Homo sapiens: one gene and its partner. The protein of the gene in region 2 purifies or fractionates together with the protein of the main gene of each other region. This does not show direct contact. Each region holds a gene or a part of one and is shown on either strand. Other genes may lie near its edges.

What was found.
Region 1: the proteins of RPS6KL1 (region 2) and GOLIM4 purify together in Homo sapiens (affinity purification with mass spectrometry; one large-scale study listed by BioGRID and IntAct). This does not show direct contact.

Annotation. Positions count from the first base shown.
Region 1 is NC_000003.12:168,032,370-168,036,924, forward strand, and holds part of GOLIM4 (Golgi integral membrane protein 4), read right to left. Parts: coding exon 4,467-4,555; intron 484-4,466; coding exon 151-483; intron 1-150. UniProt on the Homo sapiens protein: Plays a role in endosome to Golgi protein trafficking; mediates protein transport along the late endosome-bypass pathway from the early endosome to the Golgi.
Region 2 is NC_000014.9:74,915,491-74,921,100, forward strand, and holds part of RPS6KL1 (ribosomal protein S6 kinase-like 1), read right to left. Parts: intron 4,480-5,610; coding exon 4,355-4,479; intron 3,116-4,354; coding exon 3,023-3,115; intron 1,031-3,022; coding exon of another isoform or gene 983-1,030; intron 1-982.

The sequences.
Region 1 (4,555 bases), on a different chromosome or scaffold from region 2:
TACAAGAGAAAACTTAAATATGAGCATATAATGTTTAGTAGAATCACTCACATTTCTATTTTAGAGATTGTGATATATTACCTTAATATGTAAAAATAAAGCCAGGTTTTCCATCCCAGTACACCATACCAGAAGCGGGTGACTTCATACCTCAGCACGCGCGTGCCCTTCCAGGAGGTTGGCTGCTTCTCGTTGCTCATGCTGCTCTTTCCACTCCCGATCCTGCTCCTCTGGTGATGGATCGTGTTCCTCCTCAAGATGTTCTGCTTGCCCGACCTGCTCCATTTCTTCCTCCTCCAGGGCCTTTCTGTGCTCCTCTTCCACCTGATGCTCCTCAGGTTCTCTGCGTTCCACTTCTTGTTGGATTGGCTCTGGGGGAGCCTGAAATTCTGCCTCCTTATGGGTGGGAGCATAGAGTTTTGTGTCTTCTGCTCTTCCAGGAACTGCTTCATGGTTCTGCCACACATCATTATTTCGAGACACCTAGGCCAAGCACATCACTGGGAATGACACTCTTCCAATTTCAAAAGTAATGATGTAATTTCTTGATTTCCATGTCTATGGGGCATGGGGCTACAACAGAAGAAGGTGTCTAGAAATATATATAGTCCTGGCTTTATGGCTGCAATGGAGTCACTTAAGTTTCTTACTGTGTAATCTCACTTATAAAATAGACATAATATAAGCAAAACTTCATCTGTGAAGAATACAGTAAATAACCTGGAAAATAAAACCTCCAAGTAACCAATATCTCAGAAGTACTCTAATTCCTATTTTCCCTTAGAATAAAAAGGAACAAAACCTCAAACTTCAAGTGATGAAATGTTTACATAATTTTCTTCAATGTAAATTTTGTTTTCAGTAATTATTTGAAAAGAGAAGGATGAAATAAAATTGAGGAGTTGGGTTTAGTTTTTACTAGTTTGGTTTACTAATTTAAAAAAGAATGCCATTGGCCGGGCGCGGTGGCTCACGCCTGTAATCCCAGCACTTTGGGAGGTCGAGGCGGGTGGATCACGAGGTCAGGAGATCGAGACCATCCTGGCTAACACAGTGAAACCCCGTCTCTACTAAAAAAACACAAAAAATTAGCCGGGCGTGGTGGCGGGCGCCTGTAGTCCCAGCTACGCGGGAGGCTGAGGCAGGAGAATGGCGTGAACCCGGGAGGCGGAGCTTGCAGTGAGCCGAGATTGCGCCACTGCACTCCAGCCTGGGCGACAGAGCAAGACTCCGTCTCAAAAAAAAAAAAAAAAAAAAAAAAAAAAAAAAAAAGAATGCCATTACTAATGAACATCCATGTTAGTTCAACACAGTGCCTGTTAAACAAGATACAATAAAATATTTTTAATGTATTAAAGTAGTAATTATTTGTAAACCAGCAGGACTCTTTTGTAAACATTTTTTATTGCTAATATTGAAAACCCTGAGCAGAAAAAGAAGAAATGGCTTTTTCAGAATAACCCTCCTCTAAAATTAGTTGACTCAAATCAGTTCTCCCTATAAGTTTCAGCGATCTCTATATGATCTGCACTACCTAGAAAGTGAGGAAGAAAGAGAATATAGTATATCAACAGAAACAAACGTCACTCTTTTTTTCTCTTTAACCTTCAGAAAAAAAAATCTTCTTTGGTTAGACTGCTCTCCCAAAATTGAAATAAATGTGAAATCCTATTCTTAAATTAGCAGAGATATAATTATCAAATCTGAGAAATTGGACTGTATTAATAAACTGGGGAGAAAAGTCCTTTCTCAGACATTTGAGGACAACTGGAGTTGCACATTCCACCGACATCCTCACATATCTGGCAAGTTTGACATAATACTGCCCTGGCTTTACAGAAAAATATTTCTCTAAAGAGCTCTAAGTACTTTCAAACACTTGTCATTTATCTTCACAATATCCTAGTGAGGAAGGTTAGTGCAGATAACTCCTATCTCCACCTCAGAGATGGAAAAACTGAAGATCTGAGTCACTGGAAGATTAATCCAGTAAACTGGCAGTCTGACAAGGGCAGAAAATAGAACCAACTGCCAGGCCAGTGATCTGGTCATGCTCTCTTTAGTTATTAACATAAGAGCCTGAGAAAGAATAAGAGTCCATGAAGATACTGAACCTGTCTGTTGAAGGAATACCCTGAACAGAGTGAAGAGGCTCATATATGAAGTCTACTCATATCAACTTAATTATTCCCATAACTTGGAGGAAAGTTTTCTCAGTCTTCTCTTTAATGTTAAAAACCACTTTGTGAGCAAAGGACATGAACACACACATCAAAAGAAGACACTGATATGGTTTGGCTGTGTCCCCACCAAAATCTCATCTTGAATTCCCACGTGTTGTGGGAAGAACCCGGTTAGAGGTAACTCAATCATGGGGTCAAGTCTTTCCCGTGCTGCTCTCACAATAGTGAACAAGTTTCACAAGATCTGATCGTTTTAAAAAGAGGAGTTACCCTGCACAAGCTCTCTCTCTCTGCCTGCTGCCATCCATGGAAGATGGGACTTGCTCCTCCTGGCCTTCCACCATGATTGTGAGGCTTCCCCAGCCATGTGGAATTGTAAGTCCAATTAAACTTCTTTCTTTTTTAAATCAACCAGTCTAGGGTATGTCTTTATGAGCAGCATGAAAACGGACTAACACAAACATATATGTGGCCAACAATCATACAAAAAAAAAAAAAAAACAACTCAGCATCACTGATCATTAGAGAAATGCAAATCAAAACCACAATGAGATATTATCTCACACCAGTCAGAAGAGCTATTATTAAAAAGTCAAAAATAACAGATTCTGGCGAGGTTGTGAAGAAAAAGGAATGGTTATACACTGTTGGTGGGAGTGCAGATTAGTTCAACCATCATGAAAGACAGTGTGGAGACTGCTCCAAGACCTAAAGATATAAATACCATTTGACTCAGCAAAATCCCATTACTGGGTATATGCCCAGAGGAATAGAAATCATTCCATTATAAAGACACATTCACTGCAACACTATTCACAATAGCAAAGACATGGAATCAACCTAAATGCCCACCAATTATAGACTTTGATAAAGAAAAATGTGATACATAAACACCATGGAATACTATGCAGTCATAAAAAAAGAACAAGATCATGTCCTTTGCAGGGGCATGGATGGAGCTGGGGGCCATCATCTGTAGCAAACCAACACAGGAACAGAAAGTCAAATACTACATGTTCTCACTTATAAGTGGGAGCTAAATGATGAGACACATAAGCACATAGAGGGGAACAACACACTGTACGGCCTATCAGAAGGTGGAGGGAGAGGAGCAGGAATATAGCTAATGGGTACTAGGCTAAATAGCTGGGTGATAAGATAATCTTTACAACAAACTCCCATGACACAGTTTACCTACGTAACAAACTTGCTCATGTACCCCTGAACTTAAAAGTTTAAAACAACCACTTTGTCAGAAAGATAACCATATTGCCTATTTTTTTATTACAGATGATTGGAAAAAAAAAAAACAACCTTTGTAGAAATTAGTGGTAATGGTAACTACTTCTGATGTCTCACTTATGAGATATTCTTAAGGCTTAATTTTTATAAAGAACAAGAATATAAAAAGGTGTATTATTTGACTAGCACTCATACCCGTAGGAGTGTCAAACAGGTCATTTAATTCAAATTTTGACATGCTCTGTGTAGACCTAGCACTGCTCCAAGTTAAAATATATTATTAACTTTAATATTTGAGTGGGTTGACTGTCACATAAAATCCTCATGATCATTTAACGTTCTCACCCTAACCCCCGCAAAATCCCCAACCTTGAAAAACTCAGATACTACAACTCCTTGAAGACAAATAAACCTACATGAATAAAGACAAAGCCATTAAAGCCTTTCTCAGACATACTAGCAGCGGCCAGGTGTGGTGGCTCACGCCTATAATCCCAGCACTTTGGGAAGCCAAGGCGGGCGGATCACCTGAGGTCAGGAGTTCAAGACCAGCCTGGCCAACATAGCGAAACCCTGTCTCTACTGAAAATACAAAAATTAGCCAGGCGTGGTGGCGGGCGCCTATAATCCCAGCTACTCGGGAGGCTGAGGCAGGGAGAATTGCTTGAACCCGGGAAGCGGAGGTTGCAGTGAGCTAAGATTGTGCCACTGCACTCCAGCCTGGACGACGTAGCATGACACTGTCTCAGAGAAAAAAAGAAAGAAAATACTAGCAGCAGTTCTCAAAGTTTGCTACTCAGACCAGCTAAATCAGTTAGAAATGCAAATCTTTAGGCCTCACTCCAAATTAACTAAATCAGAAACTCTGGGCCTGGGACCCAGTAATCTGTGTTTTATCACGCCCTACTGGCAATTCTGATATACTAAAATTTGAGAACTACTGCTCTCCCAGAAAAGTTGGCAATATTAAAAGCAGGTCCCCTCTTGGCAACTTGACAGAGAAAGTGACCTAACCATAGATTACCAGTTCACGCCCCTTACCTCCTGCACCTCTCGGGTTGGCTTCTCCCTTGCTGTGTTGTAACCTTGTGGAGAATGTGCCACCTGGGTCACATTTTGCTGTTCTGCTG
Region 2 (5,610 bases):
TTTTCTTTAAAGATGCACAAAGTATCAAAATCCCAGGAGGACTCTCCCATGGAACAAACAAGCCTAAAGGTTTCAAACAAGTTCTTAAACTCAAAGGTCCACAGGGGCCAGGCATGTGAGCAAATAGGCAGGGTGGAGGCGCAGAAAGGAGGGCTGGTGCCCCGTCTAAGGCAGGCATCTCCTCCTCCACTCCCTGCTGCCACAGGGGAATGGGAGGCCAGCGTTTCCAGATCTGATTTTTTCAAGAGAAGCAGGAAATCTGGACTTTTATAAGAATCTGCACATTTTCAAATGTTGGTAACAACTAAAAAAACCCAAAAAACAAACAACAAAAAAAACACCCCTGTGTTTAAGCCAAATAAAAGAAGAAGTGACTTGGATGACCTTCTTTTTCTTCCTCCACCCTGTCTCAGAGCCTGGCTCCTGCACGAGGCTCAGCAAATACCCGGTGATGTCTCCCTGGCCCCCAGGCTCTGAGGCCAGGCCCTCGGGTATTCTGGCTGCTTGCCAAGTCCCGACCCACCCACCTCACTGCTCCCTGCCACCATCTCTTCAGCCCTTAGTTATCCTAACAGCCGGACACGTTAGGGGTCACTCAAGCATCATCCCGAGCAAGCCCTTTGCTTCCTCCCTGGGCCTGAGGGTTGCTGCTGGCTGGCACTGCCCACTTGCCCAGATCTGTCTGGGCACAGCTGTGGAATGGAACAAGGGTGACAGTATATCCAAGTCTGGCTGCAGGGACCCAGGCCCAGGGGCAGTAACACCTTTCCTAATTTGAGGAAAGTGATGCTCCTGGCTTGGGCATGACACAGGGAAAGGAAGTAGGATCTCAGGAGGGAGGTGAAGTCCTTAAGTTGAGTACCCAAGACAGGATAAAAAAGAAAAAAAAGAAGGGTAGTCCTGAAATAGAATGCGGCGGGCCACTGGCTCACGCCTGTAATCCCAAGTGCTTTGGGAGGCCTAAACGGAGGTGGAGGATCACCTGAGGCAAGGAGTTCGAGACCAGCCTGGGCAACACAGCGAGATCTCTCTACAAAAAATAGAAGACAATAGCAGGGCTTGAGACTGTGGTCCCAGCTACTCAGGAGGCTGAGGTGCGAGGATTGCTTGAGCCTGGTAGGTCGAGGCTGCAGTGAGCCGAGATCACGCCACTGCACTCCAGCCTGAGCTACAGAGCGAGACCCTGTGTCAAGAAAAAAAAAAAATGGTTGGGCTTGGCTTTAATTTGTGCTTTCCATCTGCAGGGGCCTCGAAACACTGGATTCCTAAACCACTTTCCTGAGGCTAAACAAGTTTGGGGAATTCTGTGTCACAGTGTACATCTGCACCTAAACACTCTAAGAACTCCGATCATTAAGAAACAAAGCCATATAACTTCAACTCGCTGTTTTCCTATCATACTCAGCTCAGAACCCCTCTCACCACAACACCTATGGTTCAGCGGGATCGTACCGGGAGGCACGGTGTCAGTCACCTCCCGGCCAGTCCCTGGGAACGGCTGTGCTCAGCCAAGGTTGGGTCGTGGCCACTGACACTCAAGCAGTGGGGAGGGGACCGTGGCAGATGGAAGCTGGCAGGGCCTGCGCTGACAGTCTGGGACCTGCCCCAGGGACCCAGGAGAAGCAGCTGGAGTAAGGCCCGGGAGCAGAAGCCTGCGTGCCTCCCAGCTCACTCCTGTCACTTGTATTTAGAGCCATCAAGCACGTACTCAGTGTCACAGCATGTGCCAGGTCTTTCCCCAAAATTGTTTTGTTTTACCTCCCAGATCACCCCATTGGGGGAGAATTCTCATCTCACTTTCCAGAGGAAGAAACCACAGCTCAGAGAGCAGGGGGCTTGCCCGTGGCCACCCGGGGTGGTGCCCAGCGCGGGGCCTTCCCTCAGGCAGCATGTCATCCTCTTGCCTGTGGGAAGTACAGGACTGTCTCCTTTTCTCTGTGGGCCCCCAGATCTACCAAAATCACCCAGTGAGTATGTTAAATAACAGATTCTTGGGCATCTGTATTTTTAGGAAGCTCTCCATTTAGCCAGCTTGGTAAAGAACTTCTTGGGTGACTATTCCAGGGTTCAGGGGAAGAGGGGAACCTCATACTGGCTGGACTCTGATTTGACCTCATTGTCTGTCCTTCTAATCAGAAGCACTCTAACAATGAGTGCCCCGAGTAAGGGTTGGGACGTCGCCTCCTATCTTCTTGTCTGCCCTGAATAAGGCAAAGCATGCGAGATAGCATTGGGACAGGGTAAAGTTACAGTTAGGTCAGGAGAGGAAAAAAAGGGCAGACTTGCCAAGGCCCTGGGCAAGGACGGGCCAGAACGGGCCCTCTCTGGACAGGTTTCTGGAGTTGAGCACGTCCCAGCCGCAGGAAGTCCCCAGCTGTGCTCGGTAGAGCGTCTTGGCTGCAGCCCTGGGGTTCAGGGTGAGTGTGGTGGGGGTGCTGTGGGAAGCGGGAAGTGGGAGTGAGCAGGGCCTCGAGGACTGGCAGGGTGCCCTGGGCATAGCTCCTCGCTCCTCCTGCAGTTTCTGTCCCAACTCTCCCAAGGAGCAGGTTTTCTGGATCTGAGCTGCAGGGCTGTGGAAAGGGCCTGTCTGCCTCTTCTTTTTATATTTTATTTTATTTTATTTTATATTTTATTTTATTTGAGATGGGGTCTTGCTATGTTGCCCTGGTTGGCCTCTAACTCCTGGGCTCAAGCAGTCCTCTTGCCTTGGCCTGGTGCTTGGCCCAAAGTGCTGGGATTCCAGGTGTGAGCCACTGTGGCTGGCCAATCAGCCTCTTCCCGTTCCCTGCATTTTCCTCCCCAGGACCCAGGACCAAAGTCATGCGTGTTAGGGATGGGGGAGAGGTGGGAACTGCTGGAAACAACTGCACTCGCACTCCCCACTGACCCCTGCCCACCTCCTCTGGAGGAGTGGGGGCCACTGCTACAGACCTGCTTTCAGCATATCATGTCTCTCTCCCCACCGCCACCCCAAATTGCATACACTGTCTCCCTCCTGCAAGGCGAGTGTCCACTCACTCACCTTCTCGATGACCCCGACCACCCTGCAGCCCCTCAGCTGCTCCACGGCAGAGCTCAGCGTGCGAATGGGCCGGAGCCTCAGGCTGCTGAAACCCTGCAGAGGAGGGAGACAGGCCACACACAGCCTCAGGGCCGAGCCCTCCTTGGCCATGGCCTTCTCACCAGGCATCAGGCAGGGGCTTCTGGATGCAAGGAGAACAGCTGGGAGGGCAGGGGTATAGGCAGGCCCCACCCCACAGTGGCAGGCTGGGTGGAAAAGCTGGCCTTTACCGATAGGCACCCATACTGGTCCAGGGTGGTCAGGCCGACCTCTCTGCTGAGCCCGTCCAAGGCCCATGAAGTTCTCTGGGCTTCAGAAGCCCCCTCTCAAAAGCCCCATCTAGGCCAGGCGCAGTGGCTCACGCCTGTAATCCCAACACTTTGGGAGGCCGAGGCGGGCAGATCACTTGAGGTCAGGAGTTTGAGATCAGCCTGGCCAACATGGTGAAACCCTATCTCTACTAAAATACAAAAATTAGCCGAGCATGGTGGCGCCTGCCTGTAACTCCAGCTACTTGGGAGGCTGAGGCAGGAGAATCGCTTGAACCTGGGAGGCGGAGGTTGCAGTGAGCCAAGATCACGCCACTGCACTCCAGCCTGGGTGACAAAGCGAGACTCCATCTCAAAAGATGCAGATGCTCCCAAGGTGGGGATAGGGAAGTAACCTGGGAACGTGTGAGTCTCAGGGAACGTGCCTTGAAGACCAAGCACCTACTTTGGGGAAAGGCAGCCGTACAGGATGCAGTGAGCCAAGGAGGGCTGCGTGAGTACGCGCAACCGTGGGGTAAGAAGCGTGCGTGCATTTTCCACCCTCACTGAACACTTACTGGTTTAGAGAAAGCCATGTGGGGACTGTGTGTGTGCACATACATGCACACAGATATGTGTGTGTGCACACAAGGGTGTCGGGGTCTGCTCCAAATTGCATGCCGGTTCACAAGAGACAGAATCAGGAGGCTCTGAGTGTGGACACACATAAGCGTGTAAATTGAACGGTGTGCAAGGCTGGCAGATGTCTATGTGCACACATGGCAAGTGCTCTGTGAGGGAGGCAGACGACTGGAGATGACTCAGTGAGTTGTTTGAAAATGAATGAACCATGAGGCGTGGGAGAGAGAGGAAGCCAGGAGGAAAAGAAGATGGGCCGCCCTGGCACACTCCAGCCCAAATAATGACTTCCACTGCCGGCCTCTGCCCTGCAGCCCAGGGCGGGCCTGTGGGTGTCGGGGCCTCCGCAGTCTCCCCTCAGAGCCCTCCTCCCGCTCAGGCCTTTGGGTGGGGGGGGTCTCCTCACCGCGCTGGGGCTGGCTCCACTGCTCAGCGGCCGCTGCAGGTGGCAGTTGAAGATCTCCTCTGCCCGCCGCAGGTATTTGGTAATTTTCAGCTTCACAGCCTCACGTCGCTCCTTGTTGGGGTCAACTGTGGGAGACAAGAGTCACCAGGGTCCCCAGCCATGGCCTCGGAGGGCTGGAGTTCCAGCTCCCATTGCCTGCCCTCTACCCTCCCAAGGAGTGAGCTCCTGTTTCTAAGGCTGGTTCGGCAGATTCTGCCCCCAGATTGCTTCATGAGCCCCTCCTCTGGGGTGGGGGGCCAGCCAGGAAGGAGGAGGAAGGGAGCTGGCAGGAGGAGGTTAGGAACCAGGGTCACTCCTCAGCAGACAGCACTTCACCATTAGCACCCACCGCCTTGCTGGCGGCTGTCACACCCTGGGAAGGGACAGGGTGGGGATTTCCCCATCCATTTTTTCAGAGGAGGGGATAGAAGATTCCAGAGAGCATTGCTTCTTCCATCTCTGATGCCCAGTGTAAAGAAGGCTAGGGTGGGGACCAGGATCGGGGGATAAAGGAATTTGCTGGACAGACTGGAAGCCCAGGCTTGAAGGGTCTCTTCAGCCAGAGGGCAGGAAGGGCCCAGTGCCCACCTCAAGGCCTGGCCACCAGGGCCCACAGGCGTCTCAAAATGGCCTCAGCACCAGCCTCTCCCCTGACATGGAAGTTCCTCATGCTGCCCTGGAGGGACCTCCCCTCTCGCCTCTAGGCCTTGAATGTTCTTTCTGGAACTCTAGCCAGTTCTTCAGCTGGATAACGCACCTACCATTCTCCAGTGCTCAGATTAGAGATCTAACATCTAGAAAATGCTCTAGGCCGGCCCAGTCTGACCTCAGTTTCCCTCTTTCCTCTCTTCACTTCCCCACTAATCCTCTTCCTACCTGAGACTATAATGGTCCAAATCAACTCATCAGTCTCCCCCCACTAGAATGCAAACTCCCAGAGGGCAGGAGCCCAGCCCAGCTCCAGGAACAGTCAGGTGTAGTGGGCCAAGTACACAGCCTGTGAAGTGAAACCCCAATTGTGCCATTTGATAGCTGTGGAGCCTTGAGCAAGCTACTGAACTGCCCCATGCCTCAGCTTCCTCATCTGGAACATGAGAATGTAAAAAATGGTTCCTGTGTGCTTGGAACAACATACAACAACATATATAGTAATTTCTATTACTGTGACACTCAAATGAATGAATCTACATGAAGCCCTTAGAATAGTACCTGGCATG